3 linked regions of the Homo sapiens genome follow. The protein of the gene in region 3 purifies or fractionates together with the protein of the main gene of each other region. This does not show direct contact. Each region holds a gene or a part of one and is shown on either strand. Other genes may lie near its edges. The genes, in order: CENPF, FRYL and POLH.

Region 1 (3,653 bases), on a different chromosome or scaffold from region 3:
AGAAACTACAGAAAGAACACCAAAGCATGATGTTCATCAGATTTGTGATAAAGATGCTCAGCAGGACCTCAATCTAGACATTGAGAAAATAACTGAGACTGGTGCAGTGAAACCCACAGGAGAGTGCTCTGGGGAACAGTCCCCAGATACCAATTATGAGCCTCCAGGGGAAGATAAAACCCAGGGCTCTTCAGAATGCATTTCTGAATTGTCATTTTCTGGTCCTAATGCTTTGGTACCTATGGATTTCCTGGGGAATCAGGAAGATATCCATAATCTTCAACTGCGGGTAAAAGAGACATCAAATGAGAATTTGAGATTACTTCATGTGATAGAGGACCGTGACAGAAAAGTTGAAAGTTTGCTAAATGAAATGAAAGAATTAGACTCAAAACTCCATTTACAGGAGGTACAACTAATGACCAAAATTGAAGCATGCATAGAATTGGAAAAAATAGTTGGGGAACTTAAGAAAGAAAACTCAGATTTAAGTGAAAAATTGGAATATTTTTCTTGTGATCACCAGGAGTTACTCCAGAGAGTAGAAACTTCTGAAGGCCTCAATTCTGATTTAGAAATGCATGCAGATAAATCATCACGTGAAGATATTGGAGATAATGTGGCCAAGGTGAATGACAGCTGGAAGGAGAGATTTCTTGATGTGGAAAATGAGCTGAGTAGGATCAGATCGGAGAAAGCTAGCATTGAGCATGAAGCCCTCTACCTGGAGGCTGACTTAGAGGTAGTTCAAACAGAGAAGCTATGTTTAGAAAAAGACAATGAAAATAAGCAGAAGGTTATTGTCTGCCTTGAAGAAGAACTCTCAGTGGTCACAAGTGAGAGAAACCAGCTTCGTGGAGAATTAGATACTATGTCAAAAAAAACCACGGCACTGGATCAGTTGTCTGAAAAAATGAAGGAGAAAACACAAGAGCTTGAGTCTCATCAAAGTGAGTGTCTCCATTGCATTCAGGTGGCAGAGGCAGAGGTGAAGGAAAAGACGGAACTCCTTCAGACTTTGTCCTCTGATGTGAGTGAGCTGTTAAAAGACAAAACTCATCTCCAGGAAAAGCTGCAGAGTTTGGAAAAGGACTCACAGGCACTGTCTTTGACAAAATGTGAGCTGGAAAACCAAATTGCACAACTGAATAAAGAGAAAGAATTGCTTGTCAAGGAATCTGAAAGCCTGCAGGCCAGACTGAGTGAATCAGATTATGAAAAGCTGAATGTCTCCAAGGCCTTGGAGGCCGCACTGGTGGAGAAAGGTGAGTTCGCATTGAGGCTGAGCTCAACACAGGAGGAAGTGCATCAGCTGAGAAGAGGCATCGAGAAACTGAGAGTTCGCATTGAGGCCGATGAAAAGAAGCAGCTGCACATCGCAGAGAAACTGAAAGAACGCGAGCGGGAGAATGATTCACTTAAGGATAAAGTTGAGAACCTTGAAAGGGAATTGCAGATGTCAGAAGAAAACCAGGAGCTAGTGATTCTTGATGCCGAGAATTCCAAAGCAGAAGTAGAGACTCTAAAAACACAAATAGAAGAGATGGCCAGAAGCCTGAAAGTTTTTGAATTAGACCTTGTCACGTTAAGGTCTGAAAAAGAAAATCTGACAAAACAAATACAAGAAAAACAAGGTCAGTTGTCAGAACTAGACAAGTTACTCTCTTCATTTAAAAGTCTGTTAGAAGAAAAGGAGCAAGCAGAGATACAGATCAAAGAAGAATCTAAAACTGCAGTGGAGATGCTTCAGAATCAGTTAAAGGAGCTAAATGAGGCAGTAGCAGCCTTGTGTGGTGACCAAGAAATTATGAAGGCCACAGAACAGAGTCTAGACCCACCAATAGAGGAAGAGCATCAGCTGAGAAATAGCATTGAAAAGCTGAGAGCCCGCCTAGAAGCTGATGAAAAGAAGCAGCTCTGTGTCTTACAACAACTGAAGGAAAGTGAGCATCATGCAGATTTACTTAAGGGTAGAGTGGAGAACCTTGAAAGAGAGCTAGAGATAGCCAGGACAAACCAAGAGCATGCAGCTCTTGAGGCAGAGAATTCCAAAGGAGAGGTAGAGACCCTAAAAGCAAAAATAGAAGGGATGACCCAAAGTCTGAGAGGTCTGGAATTAGATGTTGTTACTATAAGGTCAGAAAAAGAAAATCTGACAAATGAATTACAAAAAGAGCAAGAGCGAATATCTGAATTAGAAATAATAAATTCATCATTTGAAAATATTTTGCAAGAAAAAGAGCAAGAGAAAGTACAGATGAAAGAAAAATCAAGCACTGCCATGGAGATGCTTCAAACACAATTAAAAGAGCTCAATGAGAGAGTGGCAGCCCTGCATAATGACCAAGAAGCCTGTAAGGCCAAAGAGCAGAATCTTAGTAGTCAAGTAGAGTGTCTTGAACTTGAGAAGGCTCAGTTGCTACAAGGCCTTGATGAGGCCAAAAATAATTATATTGTTTTGCAATCTTCAGTGAATGGCCTCATTCAAGAAGTAGAAGATGGCAAGCAGAAACTGGAGAAGAAGGATGAAGAAATCAGTAGACTGAAAAATCAAATTCAAGACCAAGAGCAGCTTGTCTCTAAACTGTCCCAGGTGGAAGGAGAGCACCAACTTTGGAAGGAGCAAAACTTAGAACTGAGAAATCTGACAGTGGAATTGGAGCAGAAGATCCAAGTGCTACAATCCAAAAATGCCTCTTTGCAGGACACATTAGAAGTGCTGCAGAGTTCTTACAAGAATCTAGAGAATGAGCTTGAATTGACAAAAATGGACAAAATGTCCTTTGTTGAAAAAGTAAGTGGCTATATCTGTTTATGTTTAAATATGTAGTCATGAGGCAGGAAACCATATTTTCTTCTAGACACTGTGAATTGTATTTACTTCTAGACCGTGTCTGCTATATTGGACCAAACTTTGTAAAGGCTTTATGTTTACTGGGTCTTGAATTGCAGAAACACTGAGTTGGCTCTGGCAGTAGTCACTATTCTGGCTGATTCTTTGGGACATGTTCATGGATTGGACCAGGTTTTTAATGTGGCACCTACATAAGGGCAAAGCTTTGGTTTATGCACAGTTCCTTGTTCTAGTTATATTTCCTTTTCTTAGAGTACATCAGAATAGTGGCCTCCCCATATCCAGTTGAGACTCACTGCTATAGAGAGTATAACAGACATTATCTAGGATCGGAAAGGATCTGCCTGCCTTACTGTGTCTTTTTTGCCTTCAGGACAAAGCACTTTTAAAGATACTGATAGATTTGTAACCAACAGAGCACTCATGGCTTCTAGGGTGTGTTTTGGGGATTTCGTGCTTTCAGTCCCTCTTATACCTTCTCTTTGTGCAGTCTTCTATTGTATTAGTTGATGATTAAAGGGAAGATCTGCCATCAAGAGGCTCAATTATTAAAGAAAAATTAAGTTTTGGCCCAGTGAGCTTACTTAGTGATCTAGGAAAGTGATTTTGTCACACTTAATTCTTGCTGAACAAATATTAAAGAATAAAAGGACTATCCACAAAATTCATCTCCACCCTGTATTTTCTAAGAATTTTGGGGTTTTGGATACCTTGCAAGAGATGGCAGTCAGTATAGAGATGATGAGACAAACCATAGCAAGCTGTTTCACTTCAAGGGACAAATGCAAACAATAGCTTT
Region 2 (3,653 bases), on a different chromosome or scaffold from region 3:
ATTTATATTTCAGCTCACCTTTCATATTCAACTGTTTTGAGGGTGGAAGACGCTTTTTATGCAATTTGATCTGTCCTTGTGTACCAGTCTTGTCTTTTGCATAATAAGCAGTCAAATATTTGTTAGATGAATAAAAGAATGTGCAAATTTTAATATACTTTAAAATGTGCATATATATACACACACACACACTCATCCACAAAAACTGCACTGTTTTAGCATATTTAGAGTAATTGCTGGTAATTCAGAGCTGTAAAATTCATTACATTTGTGTTATTTCCTACGATCATAAACTTTATCAGCAGTTTATGTTCCATTACATCCCAAAGTAGAGGCTATACATATATGCTTGTAGAATCAGTTCTACTTTATTTGTGCTAATAGAAGTGAGGAAAGGTATTTAAAATTCAAATTGTTAATTTCCATATGAAATAAACTGTATGAACTAAACCCTCAGAAATTTAGATATGGAATATGCTTGACCTTGGATTGTGCTCAACTGATGTTTATTGGATGAGCATCCACATAATTTATGGTAAGCAGCATGGAGCTAAAGTTCACCTTTGCTTATTTAGCAAATCCCTTCTAAATTGATAGGAATAAACTTTATGAAAAACAGTCCTTCACAGGAAACTATTTAGAAAAGCAGGCTTAAGAATGACTTTTAGAAGATACATTTACGGTGTAACAATTGTTGTTTTAGTTAGAAGTCATTCTCCTCGTAAGAGACCAGATCCAAGTTGCTGTACATGTTTTCATATAGTTTTTAAGATGGTTCATAAATTTTTACTCTGTGTTTTACATACATTATGTTGATTCAAACCTAGTCGGGTTAAGTTTCTGAAACTTACTGAAGTATATTTGGAATGCAATTTAGAACATGCATCTGCTTTTGATATTCCACCCTGTGGCTCAGCACCAGTTATGGCAAAGTAGGACCTAATTAGACAGTAAAGGATAGGAAGCCTGGAATGAGCCACCCTAGAGATAATCTTTTGATGGTGATGGATAAGTATTTATTATGTACGATTATAAGCCAATTCTTTTCTGAGAAGTAACAGTAATTAATTTGTTTCTTATTTTCTAATCATAAGTTTTCCAGTTTACAAATGGAAGTTTTATTACAGTTGGGTTTTGGTTTTTTTTTTTTTAAACCTGGATAGCCAGATTTACCAAGATCACAATAGTTCAGTTTTATTCATTGTAGCTTTTACACAGAAATAAGTCATAGCCTAAATGTAATTTATTATTTGGCAAAGTGTTTAAAAACACCCTGAATCGTTGCAGTAAATGTCTAAAAAGTTTTATTCTGGAAATAACTTTGTATAATTTTCTTTGGGGTATAAATATATGTTCTTCAGTTTACCTGGAACATCTGTGACCCTAGTTAAAATGATTTCTTACACTAATTCTTGGTCTTTTTCTTCCTTTGTATTTTTTGTGACCTGATCACCTTCTTGCTTAGCAAATGGAAATACTAGCAGTAAGTGACCTGTCTTGATTTATAGACTACTCACCCTTGCCAGACAAACTGGTTTTCATCTGCCATTTGTCCATTTGTGACCCAGCAATGTTTTCTCGTGGACTACTTTACAAGTAGTATGTGCTTCAGTTTTGCAAAGCCCTAATCCATGAAATGTTGGTTCTTTTAAAATAGTGAGATGTTAAAATACATAAAATTAGCAGTCACCTTTTTCTTAAACATATCTCCTCTTAAATTTCTTAATTTAAAAAATCAAAGTGCACAACTTTTTTTTTTTTTTTTGAGATGGAGTCTTGCTCTGTTGCCCAGGCTTGGAGGGCAGTGGCATGATCTCGGCTCACTGCAACCTCTGCCTCCCAGGTTCAAGCGATTCTCCTGCCTCAGCTTCCCCAGTAGCTGGGATTACATACACCCACCACCATGCCCAGCTAATTATTTTTTGTATTTTTAGTAGAGACGGGGTTTCACCACATTGGCCAGGCTGGTTTCAAACTCCTGAGCTCAAGTGATCTGCCCACCTCGGCCTCCCAAAGTGCTAGGATTACAGGTGTGAGCCACCGTGCTCGGCCCACGTTGTTAATTTCATAGTTTCATTTCAATGAGATTACCAAGTGGTTTTCTTTAGAAAAATGACCTCACTTTAAAAGACAGCTTTTCTTACTTTTTAGGTAAGAGGTTATCCGGTTTCACTTTGCTTTATCAAGCATTTGTTGATAAATGCAGTGAGATCTACATCTCAATGAGGGCAAAAGTCTTTGCATTTGTAGATTATTTTAATTATGAATTTAAAGTTTTAAATTCTAATGAATCCTTTTTAAAGTATCCTATTAATTGCCTGCTGAAACAGTCTATTTGTAGAATGTGAAAATGTGCTTAACATTAAAACTGAATTATGTAACCAGCAGTGATATTTGTTTTTATTTTAATCTTAGTCTTTAAAGCATATTTCACGTGCCTTTCATCAGCTTCATACCATATTAACTTCCTTACTGCAGAAAAATAAACGACAAGACAATTTTAACTATAAATTTCCATTGGAAATATGCTGTCTAGAAAATAACACCTAAATTTAATGTAATGTTATTTATTTCTAGGAATTGGAGCTCTGCCGAAGATTATACAAATTGCATTTTCAATTGCTGCTTCTGTTCCAGGCCTACTGTAAACTTATCAACCAAGTAAATACGATAAAAAATGAAGCAGAGGTAAATATTCAGTTGTATTAGGCATCAGTAACTGATTCTAAAAAAATTTTAAAATAAAATCTATTACTTGTTAAAATAGCTTAAGTCAAAAGTCACTTAGAGTGAGTCTTTTTTCTTTTAGTTAAGGAATAATTTGTTTTTTAATGATGTGCTATGTCAGGACCTATGAGTAAATAAGACAGCAGATATCCAGCAGTTGTAAAAGGTTCAAGACCTTAAAGGTTTCCATAGTAGACACAGATCATCTATAATCAAAAGTCAAGTAAAAGCCAGGGATGGTGGCACATACCTATAGTCCTAGTTACTCGAGAGTCTGAGCTGGGATGATGACTTGAGCCCAGGAGTTAGAAGCTGTAGTGAGCTGTGATTGCAGCACTGCACTCCAGCATAGGTGACAGAGCAAGACCCTGTCTCAGAAAATCAAAATAGTCAAACAAAGCACATCAGTTCAATAAAGACATAAAACTGTATCATCAACCCCCCTCCCTCAACATGTTGTTCGTATTTCTATAGCTTTTTTTTTTTTTTTTTTTTTTTGAGGCAGAGTCTCCTTCTTTTGCCCAGGCTGCGGTGCAATGGCATGATCTCAACTCACTGCAACTTCCACCTCCTGGGTTCAAGCAGTTCTCCTGCCTCAGCCTCCCAAGCAGCTGGGACTACCAGTGTGCACCACCACACCCAGCTAACCTTTTTGTATTTTTAGTAGAGACGGGGTTTCACCATGTTGGCCAGGCTGGTCTCAAACTCCTGACCTCAGGTGACCCACTGCCTTGGCCTGCCAAAGTGCTGGGATTACAGGCATAAGCCACCGTGCCCAGCCCACATTGTTACAGTTTTATTAGTGCACACAAGAAAAAACATGTTAAAAAACACTTTGAATGTTGAAAATCAATACATAGCCTCAAAGATGCTAACTTTAGTCTTTTCCCCCCCTTGTCATCTGCTGGTAATAAAACTATCACTGG
Region 3 (3,572 bases):
CCCTGTTTGTGAAGGGGTGTCGAAGCTAGAAGAATCCTCTAAAGCAACTCCTGCAGAGATGGATTTGGCCCACAACAGCCAAAGCATGCACGCCTCTTCAGCTTCCAAATCTGTGCTGGAGGTGACTCAGAAAGCAACCCCAAATCCAAGTCTTCTAGCTGCTGAGGACCAAGTGCCCTGTGAGAAGTGTGGCTCCCTGGTACCGGTATGGGATATGCCAGAACACATGGACTATCATTTTGCATTGGAGTTGCAGAAATCCTTTTTGCAGCCCCACTCTTCAAACCCCCAGGTTGTTTCTGCCGTATCTCATCAAGGCAAAAGAAATCCCAAGAGCCCTTTGGCCTGCACTAATAAACGCCCCAGGCCTGAGGGCATGCAAACATTGGAATCATTTTTTAAGCCATTAACACATTAGTGCTGCCCTCAGGCTTGCCTGTAGGATTTAATATTTTTTATCTTTACAGATCTTTATCTTTAATATTTTATCTTTACAGATTTCCCTGAGAAAGGGAATTATGAAATTTTTAATACAAAAAATAATCCATTTAGGTGCTGAGTTACGGTCCCATCTCTTCACAGGCATGGATTCTAATCCCACTGCTGACAGAGATGTAAAAATTCATCCTACCAGAGTTTTTAATCTTTAGCATTTAGGGAGGCAGTGTCATAAAGTAAAAAGTGTGTGGGCCTTGGAGTCTAAGAGACGTGGTTGCAAACTTAGCTCTGGTTATTGCAATGAGGGCCTTGAACAAGTCATTTTCTTCACATTCTCATCTGTAAAATGGAGATAATACCTTACAGATTATTGCAGATTAATAACAATGTATTCAAATTATGTAACTCGGCCGGGTACAATGGCTCACGCCTGTAATCCTAACACTTTGGGAGGCCGAGGCAGACAGATCACCTGAGGTCAGGAGTTTGAGACCAGCCTGGCCAACATGGCAAAACCATCTCTACTAAAAATAGAAAAATTAGCCAGGCACGTTCCAGGCACCTGTGATCCCAGCTACTTAGAGGCTGAGGCAGAAGAATTGCTTTAACCTTGGAGGCGGAGGTTGCATTGAGCTGAGATCATGCTAGTGCGCTCCAGCCTGGGCAACAGAGCGAGACTTCATCTCAGAAAATAAAAAATAGGGGCCAGGCACAGTGGCTCATACCTGTAATGCCAGCACTTTGGGAGGCCAAGGCGGGCAGATCACGAGGTCAGGAGTTTCAGACCAATATGGTGAAACCCCATCTCTACTAAAATTACAAAAAAAATTATCCAGGCGTGGTGGTGCACGCCTGTAATCCCAGCTACTCAGGAGGCTAAGGCAGGAGAATCACTTGAACCCAGGAGGCAGAGGTTGGAGTGAGCTGAGATCGCGCCACCGCACTCCAGCCTGGGCAACAGAGCGAGACTCCATCTCAAACAAAAACAAGAACAAAAACAAACATAAAGTTGGCACAGAAAAGGGACCAAGTTTAAAAAAGGGTTTTAAATGTAATGAGACTTGCATAGTTAAAAAAAAAAAAGGGATTATTTTTATTTTTATTTTTTATTTTTGAGACGGAGTCTCCCTCTGTCGTCAGGCTAGAATGCAGTGGTGCGTTCTCAGCTCACCGCAACCTCCGTCTCCTGGGTTCAAGCAATTCTCCTGCCTCAGCCTCCCAAGTAGCTGGGACTACAGGCACGTGCTACCACACTCAGCTAATTTTTGTATTTTTAATAGAGATGAGGTTTCACCATGTTGGCCAGGATGGTCTCGATTGCTTGACCTCATGATCCGCCTGCCTCGACCTCCCAAAGTTGCTGGGATTACAGATGTTAGCCACCGATCCTGGCCCCCCCAAAAAAAGGATTTTAAGAAAAACTTCTCTTGGCCGGGCGCAGTGGCTCACGCCTGCAATCCCAGCACTTTGGGAGGCCGAGGCGGGCGGATCACAAGGTCAGGAGATCGAGACCACGGTGAAACCCCGTCTCTACTAAAAAATACAAAAAAAAATTAGCCGGGTGCGGTGGCAGGCGCCTGTAGTCCCAGCTACTCGGGAGGCTGAGGCAGGAGAATGGTGTGAACCCGGGAGGCGGAGCTTGCAGTGAGCCGAGAGCGCGCCACTGCACTCCAGCCTGGGTGACAGAGCGAGACTCCGTCTCAAAAAAAAAAAAAAAAGAAAAACTTCTCTTTAGGCTGGGTGCGGTTCCTCATGCCTATAATCCCAGCATTTAGGGAGGCTGAGGTGAGTGGATTGCAGGAGCTCAGGAGTTCGAGACCAGCCTGGGCAAGGTGGCAAAACCCCGTCTCTACTAAAAAAAATTAGCTGGGCTTGGTGGCAGGCGCCTGTAATCCCAGGTACTCGGGAGACTGAGGCAGGAGAATTGCTTGAACCTGGAAGGTGGAGGTTGCAGTGAGTTGAGATCACACCAATGCACTCCAGCCAGGGTGAGAGTGAGAGACTGTCTCAAAAAAAAAAAAAACAAAAGAAAAACTTCTCTCTAGCTCTGTGACGGGCAGTTCAGATAATACCTTCACCAGATTTACCTGTTTTCAGCTGAAGAATGTGAGATGAAGCCTTGAAACCCTAAAAGTGATATGGTAACTAGGGCAGGTCTTTCTGTACATAAAAGTGACTTAATAAACAGTGAATTTCATACAGGTAAACCCTATTATACCCTCAGTTCTAACCATTGGCCTATCTCTTGCGTTTTGTTCTAATGTAGAATTAGATTGCTACTTGACTAGTTCAGGAACTCTGTTTAGATCTGATAAGTCATAATCAAATCTTGCCAGGCGTGGTGGTTTATGCCTGTTATCCCAGCACTTTGGGAGGCCAAGGCAGGTGGACCACGTGAAGTCAGGAGTTCAAGACAAGCATGGCCAACATGGCGAAACCCTGTATCTACTAAAAATACAAAAATTAGCCGGGCATGGTGGTGGGTGCGTGTAATCCCAGCTAGTTGGGAGGCTGAGGCAGGAGAATCACTTGAACCTGGGAGGCAGAGGTTGCAGTGAGCCGAGATTTCCACTGCATTCCAGCCTGGGCGATAGAGTAACTCTGTCTCAAAAAAACCCACTAGATCATCTCTAGAACATTGCTACTCCCAAGTATGATTTGAGGAACAGCAGCCTCAGTATCACCAGGGAACTTATTAGAAATAGTCTCAGCCTCACCACTATTCCCACTTAATTGTAATCTGATATTAACAAGATTTCCCAATGTGGGTCAGGTGTGGTGGCTCATGCCTGTAATCCCACACTTTGGGAGGCCAAGGTGGGCGGATCACTTGAGGCTGGGAGTTTGAGACCAGGCTGGCCAACATGGGGAAAACCCATCTCTACAAAAAATAACAAAAATTAGGTGTGTGTGGTGACGCATGCGTGTAATCCCAGCTACTTAGGAGGCTGAGGCAGGAGAATCACTTGAATCTGGGAGGCAGAGGTTGTAGTGAGCTGAGATTGTGCCACTGCACTCCAGTCTGGGCAACAGAGTGACACTGTTTAAAAAAAAAAAAATTCCCAATGTGGGCCGGGTGCAGTGGCTCATGCCTGTAATCCCAGCACTTTGGGAGGCTGAGGTGGGTGTATCAC

The links.
Region 1: the proteins of POLH (region 3) and CENPF purify together in Homo sapiens (affinity purification with mass spectrometry; one large-scale study listed by BioGRID and IntAct). This does not show direct contact.
Region 2: the proteins of POLH (region 3) and FRYL purify together in Homo sapiens (affinity purification with mass spectrometry; one large-scale study listed by BioGRID and IntAct). This does not show direct contact.

What each region holds. Positions count from the first base shown.
Region 1 is NC_000001.11:214,644,607-214,648,259, forward strand, and holds part of CENPF (centromere protein F), read left to right. Parts: coding exon 1-2,794; intron 2,795-3,653. UniProt on the Homo sapiens protein: Required for kinetochore function and chromosome segregation in mitosis. Required for kinetochore localization of dynein, LIS1, NDE1 and NDEL1.
Region 2 is NC_000004.12:48,500,658-48,504,310, reverse strand, and holds part of FRYL (protein furry homolog-like), read left to right. Parts: intron 1-1,465; coding exon 1,466-1,483; intron 1,484-2,577; coding exon 2,578-2,688; intron 2,689-3,653. UniProt on the Homo sapiens protein: Plays a key role in maintaining the integrity of polarized cell extensions during morphogenesis, regulates the actin cytoskeleton and plays a key role in patterning sensory neuron dendritic fields by promoting avoidance between homologous dendrites as well as by limiting dendritic branching.
Region 3 is NC_000006.12:43,614,140-43,617,711, forward strand, and holds part of POLH (DNA polymerase eta), read left to right. Parts: coding exon 1-418; 3' UTR 419-3,572. UniProt on the Homo sapiens protein: DNA polymerase specifically involved in the DNA repair by translesion synthesis (TLS). Due to low processivity on both damaged and normal DNA, cooperates with the heterotetrameric (REV3L, REV7, POLD2 and POLD3) POLZ complex for complete bypass of DNA lesions.